Linked DNA regions of Homo sapiens. The protein of the gene in region 3 interacts with the protein of the main gene of each other region in a pairwise test. Each region holds a gene or a part of one and is shown on either strand. Other genes may lie near its edges.

The links. The genes of interacting proteins can lie anywhere in the genome.
Region 1: the proteins of BACH1 (region 3) and BATF2 interact in a two-hybrid assay, tested with the Homo sapiens proteins (one large-scale study listed by BioGRID and IntAct).
Region 2: the proteins of BACH1 (region 3) and NR1D1 interact in a two-hybrid assay, tested with the Homo sapiens proteins (one large-scale study listed by BioGRID and IntAct).

The regions. Positions count from the first base shown.
Region 1 is NC_000011.10:64,987,445-64,990,708, forward strand, and holds the end of BATF2 (basic leucine zipper transcriptional factor ATF-like 2), read right to left. Parts: intron 2,834-3,264; exon of another isoform or gene 2,699-2,833; coding exon of another isoform or gene 2,630-2,698; intron 2,369-2,629; coding exon 1,685-2,368; 3' UTR 501-1,684; downstream 1-500.
Region 2 is NC_000017.11:40,092,293-40,094,941, reverse strand, and holds the end of NR1D1 (nuclear receptor subfamily 1 group D member 1), read left to right. Parts: coding exon 1-7; intron 8-819; coding exon 820-1,030; intron 1,031-1,074; exon of another isoform or gene 1,075-1,559; coding exon of another isoform or gene 1,560-1,659; coding exon 1,660-1,859; coding exon of another isoform or gene 1,860-1,922; 3' UTR 1,923-2,149; downstream 2,150-2,649. Other genes in the region: THRA (thyroid hormone receptor alpha), read right to left, coding at 1,560-1,922. UniProt on the Homo sapiens protein: Transcriptional repressor which coordinates circadian rhythm and metabolic pathways in a heme-dependent manner.
Region 3 is NC_000021.9:29,301,922-29,305,421, reverse strand, and holds part of BACH1 (transcription regulator protein BACH1), read right to left. Parts: intron 219-3,500; exon of another isoform or gene 100-218; intron 1-99. UniProt on the Homo sapiens protein: Transcriptional regulator that acts as a repressor or activator, depending on the context. Binds to NF-E2 DNA binding sites. Plays important roles in coordinating transcription activation and repression by MAFK.

The sequences.
Region 1 (3,264 bases), on a different chromosome or scaffold from region 3:
GCAGTGAGCCGAGATTGCACCACTGCACTCCAGCCTGGGCGACAGAGCGAGATTCTGTCTCAAAAAAAGGAAAAAATTAGCTGGGTGTGGTGGTGGGCACCTGTAATCCCCACTACTTGGGAGGCTGAGGCAGGAGAATCACTTGAGCCCGGGAGGCGAAGGTTGCAGTGAGCCGAGATTGCACCATTGCACTCCAGCCTGGGTGACAAGAGTGAAACTCCATCTCAAAAAAAAAACAACATTAAAAAAAAAATCTCTCTGTCTTCACACACACACACACACACACACACACACACTCTATTGGTTCTATTTCTCTAGAGAACACTGACTAATACACCTGCGCAAGTCCGTCTCATCTCTGAGCCTCAGTTTCCTCATCTGTAGTATTGGAGGGAGATTAATTAGCTGGTTCATGAGGGGTTGCCCATCTCTGTTATTCTCTCTTTTTTCAAAGACTCTGTAGGTTACAAAGAGAGGTTTAAGTAACTAGGCAAAGCAGAAAAGATTGCAAAACACTTTATTTCCATCACATATGTGCCAAGACTTGTGTTCTGTATCCAGGAGTGTGTTAGATACTAACATAGTGTTTCATTTACATGTGTGTGAAACCTGGGTGAAGAGCCAGGGTTTCTCTCCCCCACCCGCCTCAGAGTGCTTGTCCTGGAATCAGAGTGTAAAACCCCCTCTTGAAGCAGACACCAAAACTGAACTTCCACCCGGTCATGGGCCCTGCTCTTCCTGCTGTCAGCCTAGTCCAAAGAGCAATGAGGGAACTGCTTAGGAGGGGTCTGAGGGTGATGAGGGCCTGGGGGCCACACAGGGGTGGGTGCTGTCAGGTACAAGCCCATCCCTGCCTGCAAATAACCTTGCACAGGGTCCTTCCTCATTCTTTCCTCTTCCTTTTTGTTTATGAGATGAATGGCTCTTCTGCTGTGGCTTTAGGGGCAGTGGGGAGGCAGGGAGCTATTTGGGAACAGCCTGGAAAGCTGACCCTGCAGAATCTCCCAGAAGCCTTGGTGTGGCTATGGGTACCCAGGCTGTAGAAATCCCAGATGGTCCTCTTCCAGACCTCTCCCCAACTCCAGCTCACAGTTTCAGCTTCTTGGCACTGAAAACACTACTAGGGGAAGCAAGAGTCCACTTCAGGGCTTCTGCTTGGCCTCTACCCACCAGGGCTTGGACTCTGGACCTGCCCCAGCTAGGTTGGGGTTTCTGGGACTGCATGGCTCTGGCCCTGGAATCACGAAGCAGTGGGGAGAGCCCTTCTCTGCTCTGAGCATGCAAACCTTCTCACACCAGCCCACGGTTTCCAGGATTTCAGCCCCTAGGATGCCTGGGCCAGGACAGGAGAAGGAGGAGCAGAGGGTGGTGTTTCGGGCTCCAAGAAAGTCTTCGTGACCTTGGACTTGTCACTTGGCTTCCCTGAGCCTCAGTTTCCTTGTCTGAAAAAGTGGAGTGATAATCTCGATTTCTCAGGTCAACTGTGAGGTTGAAATAAGATATTGGTGGTGACAGGGCCTGTCACAGTGGGAGGCATCAGTGGTGGCTTCCTTTTCGACTGTGAAATCCTGGGCCAGCTGGTCAGCCACGCAGGGCAGCACCCAGTAGTGAGGGAGGAGAGGCCCGTGTGCTAAGGCTGCTTCCTGAGCCCAAAGAAGGGGCCAACCCAGCTCCGAAGACCAGGTTAGAAGTGGACTTGAGCAGAGGAGAGCAGAGGAAAGGCCAGGAGAGGGTGAGGGCTGGGATCCACAACCAGCCCTTGCCAAGTGGCTGCTGAGAGAGCAGGTTTGTGCTCCCTGCTCTGCAGACGTGCAAGCCCCAGGGCAGAGGAAGGGTTGTCGGGAGAGGACCCCAGCTTCCCTCTGGTGGGATGCTCCAGCTCGAGGGGCTGTGGAGGGGCAGTTTGGGCCGTGAGGCTGGGCTGGAGGGCACTGAGCTTAGAGGAAGACCCCTGCAGGCTGGAACCAGTGTGCGAGGCAAACAGGAGAGGGCTGGGGGACAGCTGGACAGGAGGTTCAGCAACCACAGCGGGGCCAAGGGACAGTGAGGGCAGGGGGCACTGGAGGAGGCTGGGAGAATCATGAGGCTGTGGACCTGGAGAGAGCGGCTGAGCTGGGTAACAGGAACCCGGGGTCTGGAACAGCTCCAGCTGCTCCCGGCAGCCATGTTGTCCCTGTGGGCCAGGGCCCAGGAGCCCCTCAGCCTGGTCCCAGCAGCCCAGGAGCCCTGGAGCTGAGCAGGAGGCACAATCCATGGGGCACAGGCGCTCATGCACGTGCAGGGTCCGGCTCCACCACGCCAGCTCGGCCTGCAGGGACTGGATCTCCTTCCGCAGGGCGAGGTTGTCTTTTTCCAGAGACTCGTGCTGCTGCAGAGAAGCAGATGGGCGGGGAGGGGAACCTCAGCCAGTGTCAGGGGCCCCGCATGAGCCTTAGCCCCTTCCAGGGTCCTCAACTTCAGGAGAAAGATGCCACCACCATTGGAATAGCCAAGTGGGGTCTCTTGGCCACTCTCTGGCCAGCCCTTCATAACCACCTACCAAGTCTCCCCTGTCCCACCCTCTGAAGGGGGCTCAGATCCGCCTGCTGTCATCCCACCACTAGTGCCCTGAGCCGGTGCCATTTCTCACCTGGGATATGCACGGGCCTCCAACCCGTGTGTCCCCCAAACCACCTATTCTCTTGCCCACAGGAGCCATTCAGCAACCATGTCATTAATTGCAGGTTAAAGCCCTTTAGAGGCACCCACCAAATTCCCTGTGGTAGAATTCCAGGCCTGTGTAGTGGCTGCAGCTCAGACCTCCGGTCTCCTCTCTCTCGCCTTCTTTCTTGCTCCCCTCCCTTCCTGACCCTCACATGAACTCTGCTTCCCGGCCACATTTCCTGTTTCCTCTGCCTGGACACCCTTCCGCCGCCCTTCTCTGTGCAAATCCCAACAGGGCCTTCCCGTGGCAACCTTGATGTCATTCTGTCCTAGATTGCTTATTGCCACTGCCCTTTTGAGGGCCCAGAACTCGCCCCTACGAGCACTGTGGGAGGATTCAGGGGATTGTTTTACAGGTTGACAGCATGAGTGTGTTCGATTCTGCATCCCTGAATCAGCATTTATTAAGTTCTGTTCTGCTGAACGCCGGTTCTGAGAACCCCTGAGACACAATCAATGTGCAGTTCTAAATAACCATTTATGATGACAGTAATGGTAAAAATGCAGAAAGAATTTTATATCCACATCTCACAGGGCTGAATAAATTGAACGACTTCCTTC
Region 2 (2,649 bases), on a different chromosome or scaffold from region 3:
CTTTGAGGTGAGTGACCGTTTATGCTTCTGGTTTTTGTTTTTTTTGAGACAGAGTTTCGCTTGTCGCCCAGGCTGGAGTGCAATGGTGCGATCTCCACTCACTGCAACCTCCACCTCCTGGGTTCAAGCAATTCTCCTACCTCAGCCTTCCAAGTAGCTGGGATTACAGGTTCCCGCCACCACGCTTGGCTAATTTTTATATTTTTATTAGAGACAGGGTTTCGCCATGTTGGCCAGGCTGGTCTCAAACTCCTGACCCCAGGTGATCTGCCCGCCTTGGACTCCCAAAGTATTGGGATTACAGGCGTGAGCCATTGCACCCAGACGCTTCCTGCTTTTGACCTTGGGAAGGATCCAACAGAAAGCCCTGCTGTCTGGGGTGGGCAGGACCTCTGAAAGGTTTTGGAACCCAGTATCTTTGTCCTTATAGCCTGATTGGTGAAAGGGGCTGAGCGGCTCCTGCTGCTTCCTCTTGATGGCTGGGACTTCTGTCATCTCAGCTGGAATTTAATCACAACCCATTACACTGAAATAATGCCTTGGGTGCACTGCTGCCCCCATTCTAGACAAGAGCAGATTAACTTTGGTGAATGCCTTGCCCAAGGTCACAGGTAGTGACAAAGCTGACACTCAGATTCAGGCTTATTGGATCCCAAAGCCATCCTTCCACCTGGGCTCCCTCATTGGCCATTCAGAAACAACCCCCACTCTACTGAGAAATCGAAGGCAGCACCGCTAAACCCTCTGGCAAACTACAGGGGCGATTTGGTCAGTGCTCCTCCCACCACACCCAGGATGACTGTTCCCCTTCCCTCCTAGGTGCTGATGGTGCGCTTTGCTTCGTTGTTCAACGTGAAGGACCAGACAGTGATGTTCCTAAGCCGCACCACCTACAGCCTGCAGGAGCTTGGTGCCATGGGCATGGGAGACCTGCTCAGTGCCATGTTCGACTTCAGCGAGAAGCTCAACTCCCTGGCGCTTACCGAGGAGGAGCTGGGCCTCTTCACCGCGGTGGTGCTTGTCTCTGCAGGTAGGTCAGGCTCTCGCCTGACCCGGGGGAGGAGGCAGACGCAGTTCAATTCAACACACCTTTTATGGAGTACCTACTCTATGCCAGGCCCTGCACCGGGCACTGGGGATACAGACATGATTCAGACACAGTCTAGCTTGGGAAACAGACTCATGCCCGACTAATTATAAAACAGTGAGATAAGTGTCACAGTAGAAGCATGAACCAAGGAAGCACAGACAACTATTTCTGCCTGGGGGAGCTGGGGAAGGAGGTGACACTTGAGTTGGGGCCTCAAAGGACAAGTAAGATGTTGCCAGGCAGAGAAAGGGGGAAGGGCATCCCAGGCAGAGGGAACTACACAGCAAAAAGCAAGGGAGTCTGGCCATGTTTGGCCTGCTGAGGAAGGGAAGGTGGTCTTACGGGATGGGAGGTGACCAGCCCTGCTGAGCCCACGCTCCCAGCTTTCAGGCACCTCCTGCTCTTGGGGCAGAGGCCTGGGAGAAGGTATGGCACTCCTTCTCCTTCCCCATCGGCCTTCTGGGGGGCTTCAGGGAGAGGCTGCATTGCCTGCCAGGTCCTCGCAGACCTCCGGTTCCTCCTCAGAGGAGCTCGGGGAGTCCGCCTCACTGCTGTCGTCTTCCCCACAGACCGCTCGGGCATGGAGAATTCCGCTTCGGTGGAGCAGCTCCAGGAGACGCTGCTGCGGGCTCTTCGGGCTCTGGTGCTGAAGAACCGGCCCTTGGAGACTTCCCGCTTCACCAAGCTGCTGCTCAAGCTGCCGGACCTGCGGACCCTGAACAACATGCATTCCGAGAAGCTGCTGTCCTTCCGGGTGGACGCCCAGTGACCCGCCCGGCCGGCCTTCTGCCGCTGCCCCCTTGTACAGAATCGAACTCTGCACTTCTCTCTCCTTTACGAGACGAAAAGGAAAAGCAAACCAGAATCTTATTTATATTGTTATAAAATATTCCAAGATGAGCCTCTGGCCCCCTGAGCCTTCTTGTAAATACCTGCCTCCCTCCCCCATCACCGAACTTCCCCTCCTCCCCTATTTAAACCACTCTGTCTCCCCCACAACCCTCCCCTGGCCCTCTGATTTGTTCTGTTCCTGTCTCAAATCCAATAGTTCACAGCTGAGCTGGCTTCTGTGGTGTGTGCTCGTTTGGGGGGTGGGGTGGAAATACTGCCAAGGCTGGGGGGGGCCACCTCTCCATCTGGTCAGTTTGTGGGGTGGGTACTCTGCCAGCAGATGGGAGGATATAGGGAAACAGCACACAAGTCTAAGGGGGGTGCCCAAGGGGGTTATTTTCATCATATATTTATTACATAAATATATAGTAAAATAGACGAGCAACAATTACCATAAAAATATCTTTCTTTAAAATCCTGACCCAAAACACAACGGGGTGAAAAATCGCACATAACAGACATACTGATTGTCAACGTGGGGCAGGAGTAGGAGCCCCTCAAGTCACCCCTGCCGGTCCCACCCCTCCCTGGGGAAGAGACCTACCTCCTTCCCTGTTTCTGGCCACAACCCCCCTCCCCCCAGCCCAGCACCAGCTTCTCATACATTCAGTAGCGCCTCTGGGCAGTGTCCCCCTCCCCCCCGCCCAGGAGTTCCCAGGGCAGGAGTT
Region 3 (3,500 bases):
TTTAGAAATCTAAAAAAAAATACCTATAGTTTGAATAGCACTTGTGACAGTCTTTTACCACAAAGAGACAACGAAGTAGGGAAAGTTAATCGTAATTACATGCTCATCCCCAAGCAGCATTTCCTTTGACTTCTCTGGATGACAACTGAAACTGAAGGCATGCCAGCAAAGAATCCGAGTGAGCTGGGCAAAATGCTCTCTACTTCAACAGTCTTTTGCTAATGTGAAAGAAAAAAAAAAAAACAAGATTACAAAAGCCAAAAGCTTTTTTTTTTCTTACCTCTTTTAACCTGAATTATGACTCTTACCTAGGGGAGTACCCAAGGCCAGGCTGAGATACACCTCAGAAAAACAGTTGATAAAGAGACATCAGGTACACTGGAAATTGAAGAGGCCTGGGCCAAGATCAGATAACCACTGTACATTTTTTAAAATAATATTTAAATATAAAATACACATTAATGAAATTACAACCTAATAAATTTATTCAATCTTTTATAGCCACATATTTTATAACAAAACTGTCTGATGGATGAGCAACTGCACTAATTTAGCTGACTTCTGAAAGACGCTGGCACACTTTAGAAAATGAATAAGGCAATAAGCATGTGAAGATATCAGTAAAGAGGAAGTTGGGTGGATAGGTCGCCCTATTTCTTCAATAGGACCCTCAGGAGTTCACCTCCTTAGGACAAAAACACCTCCCTAGGGTCCTGGAGGCAGACAAATCAATAAAAAGAAGAGATAACTGGAAAAAAGGTGTGTAGGGGGAGGGAGGGACATTTCCCTTACTATACTATTTACTCTACAGCCTTAGAGGTAGGCTATTACTAATGTCCAGGCTACAAAGGAATTGAAAACCTTTTTTAGTGTAATTCCACTTTAATGAGGGATGGGGAAGTAGAGTGCAACTGTCCACTGACTGATCTGATCTAAAAAAATGATAAATTTAAAAAGTGAAAAAAACTTTACCTGAAAGAAACTGGGAATAATTAGGGGCCAGGCACAGTGGCTCACGCCTGTAATCTCAGCACTTTGGGAAGCCAAGGCGGGTGGATTGCTTGAGGTCAGGAGTTCGAGACCAGCCTGGCCAACATGGTGAAACCCATCTCTACTAAAACACAAAAATTAGCTGGGCATGGTGGGGGGTGCCCCATAATTCCAGCTACTACGGAGGCTGAGGCAGAAGAATTGCTTGAACCCAAGAGGCGGAGGTTGCAGTGACCCGAGATCGCGCCACTGCACTCCAGCCTGAGCGACAGAGTGATACTCCATCTCAAAAAAAAAAAAAAGAAAAAAAAAACTGGGAATAACTAGTTTATTACAAAAATATTAGTTTGAACGATGACTTTCCTAAGGCACTGCAAAAAGTGTTTACATTTATTTTTCAAATAACATGATCTGCACAAAATTTCAGCTGCATTAATGTAACATTTTCTAAATTGTGCCCGTACTGAGAAGGAACCAGCTGCCAGCCAATTTCACTGCATGCCCACTGTGTTTCTACACTGGTCATTAACAACCAAGATTCTGGCTACCACTATTTCTTCTTCCTCACGTTTGCTTCAGGGCAGTTTTTTATTATCCTATGAATATTTGAATATTTTCTAACCTGTCCCTGATCCTAAATAAAACAAAGAACCTGTTCTAGAGGAGTGATATTCAAAGTATTAGACATATAAGACATTTAACATCTAGAAAACCAAATTATATTTTGCTCAATTCAATTCTAATCCAATTATGGGTAAAAATAAGTCACAAGACAAGTTTTATGTCTATCTTAGGAGATGAACTAGAATTACTTAATTCCAGCTGCCTTCTCAATAATCACACCAATGATAAAAACAGAAAGTAGAAAGCTAAATAATCAAAAGAATTTCAACTCAGTGCACACTTACAAGGTACCACACACGATGTTCTCTCCTTCAATCTGTTAAACATTCCCAAGTTTCAAAATCACAGAACTAGAATGAACGCATATCATACCACCCAGTTCAGCAACCAACAGTTTATTAAAGAAACACAGCCAAGGCACATTCAGAGTGCCATAGGAGATAAAACAGAAAGACACAGATTCTCACCATCAGGAAACTTACAATCTGGCTGAAAGAATGGTCAAAATAACACAACCTTTCTGAATTACTAACAGGTACAAAAAGCTATACGATAAATATGTCCATTGTATTCATATCCATTTCATGGATAATTTTTCTGTATTAGTACAGGCATATCATCTAAAGAAAACATAATACTTAGAAGAAACTAATTAGCTTACAAATTTACATTCTAAATGTTTCCAACAAACTGGATAGGGCCCAGGAATATGTACTGAGAAACTAGTTCTGTTCTGGTATTAACAAGAAGGGAGGGGTGGACAGGTTACTAAAGCTGCCAGGCCACAATGTCAACTACAACGTGGAAAAGACTAGCCAAAGAATGGCAAGTGTTTTTATTTCGTAAAAGCCAGTTTCAATTAACTGGTTAGTGACTACCTCAAGCACTCCGCTGAGACTGTTAAGATTCCTTTAAGTAAAAAGCTATGTCCTGTGTTCGTTGCCCTCAGAAGTTGGATGTATGTTTGAGATGGTGCTACTGACTTAACATAAGAGTGTTCCCCGGGTTGTTTTTCCAGTCTCACTTGTGATCAATGCCGGCAATTCAGCTCTCAACAGCTATAAAACACTACTGTGTAACTAAGTACTTCCCTGATTCTGAACAACAGATAATAACACCTAACACTTGATGTTTCTTATAAAGCTGGCACTGTTCTAACCACTTACCCCGTATTAACGCATATAATCCTCACAACAACCTCTCTGATACAGATTCTACTATCACCACCCCTGTTTTACAGAGGAAACAATGAGGCACTAGTTACCAGGTAGAAGAGCTTGCCCAAGGCTTTAAAGTGGGTGACACAACCAGAACCTGACCTTAAGCAGTCTGGCTCCAGAACTACTTTTTAACCATTCTGCTTACTGCTTCTTTGTCAACTGTACAGTGATCAAACCCAGACTTCAGTTATGTTAGTGCACTGTGTAAGCCAGGTGCCTGGGCTTCAGGAGAGTGTAAGTCAATGTTTTAGCTGCAGTCCTGAAATGTTTACTCCCTCCAAGGGGCACGGATTCTGGCGAATTGCACTCAAATTACCCATACCTTGGCCATCGGTACATTACCTCATTTGACATATATTTTAAATCAAAACAATCTCAAAAATCATCGTTCCACCACATAAAATAAACCCTCTGTCTAGAATGCTCAGGGAATGCAGGTTTTAGGGTTAAGACAATTCTCTCATTAACAGAACATTAGTCAGAAAATTAGAAGAGAGGTGGTGATTCCTAAAACGTAAGTCATGGAGAGATCAGCACTATGAAGAGAAAATCTGACAAGTGGTAATTTTAACGGGCTTTGCAACTGTTATTCTGAGCATCACCTCTCACAGTACAGGGGTGTAGAAGGCACATGGCACATGAGATTTAACTGAATGGTAAATACTA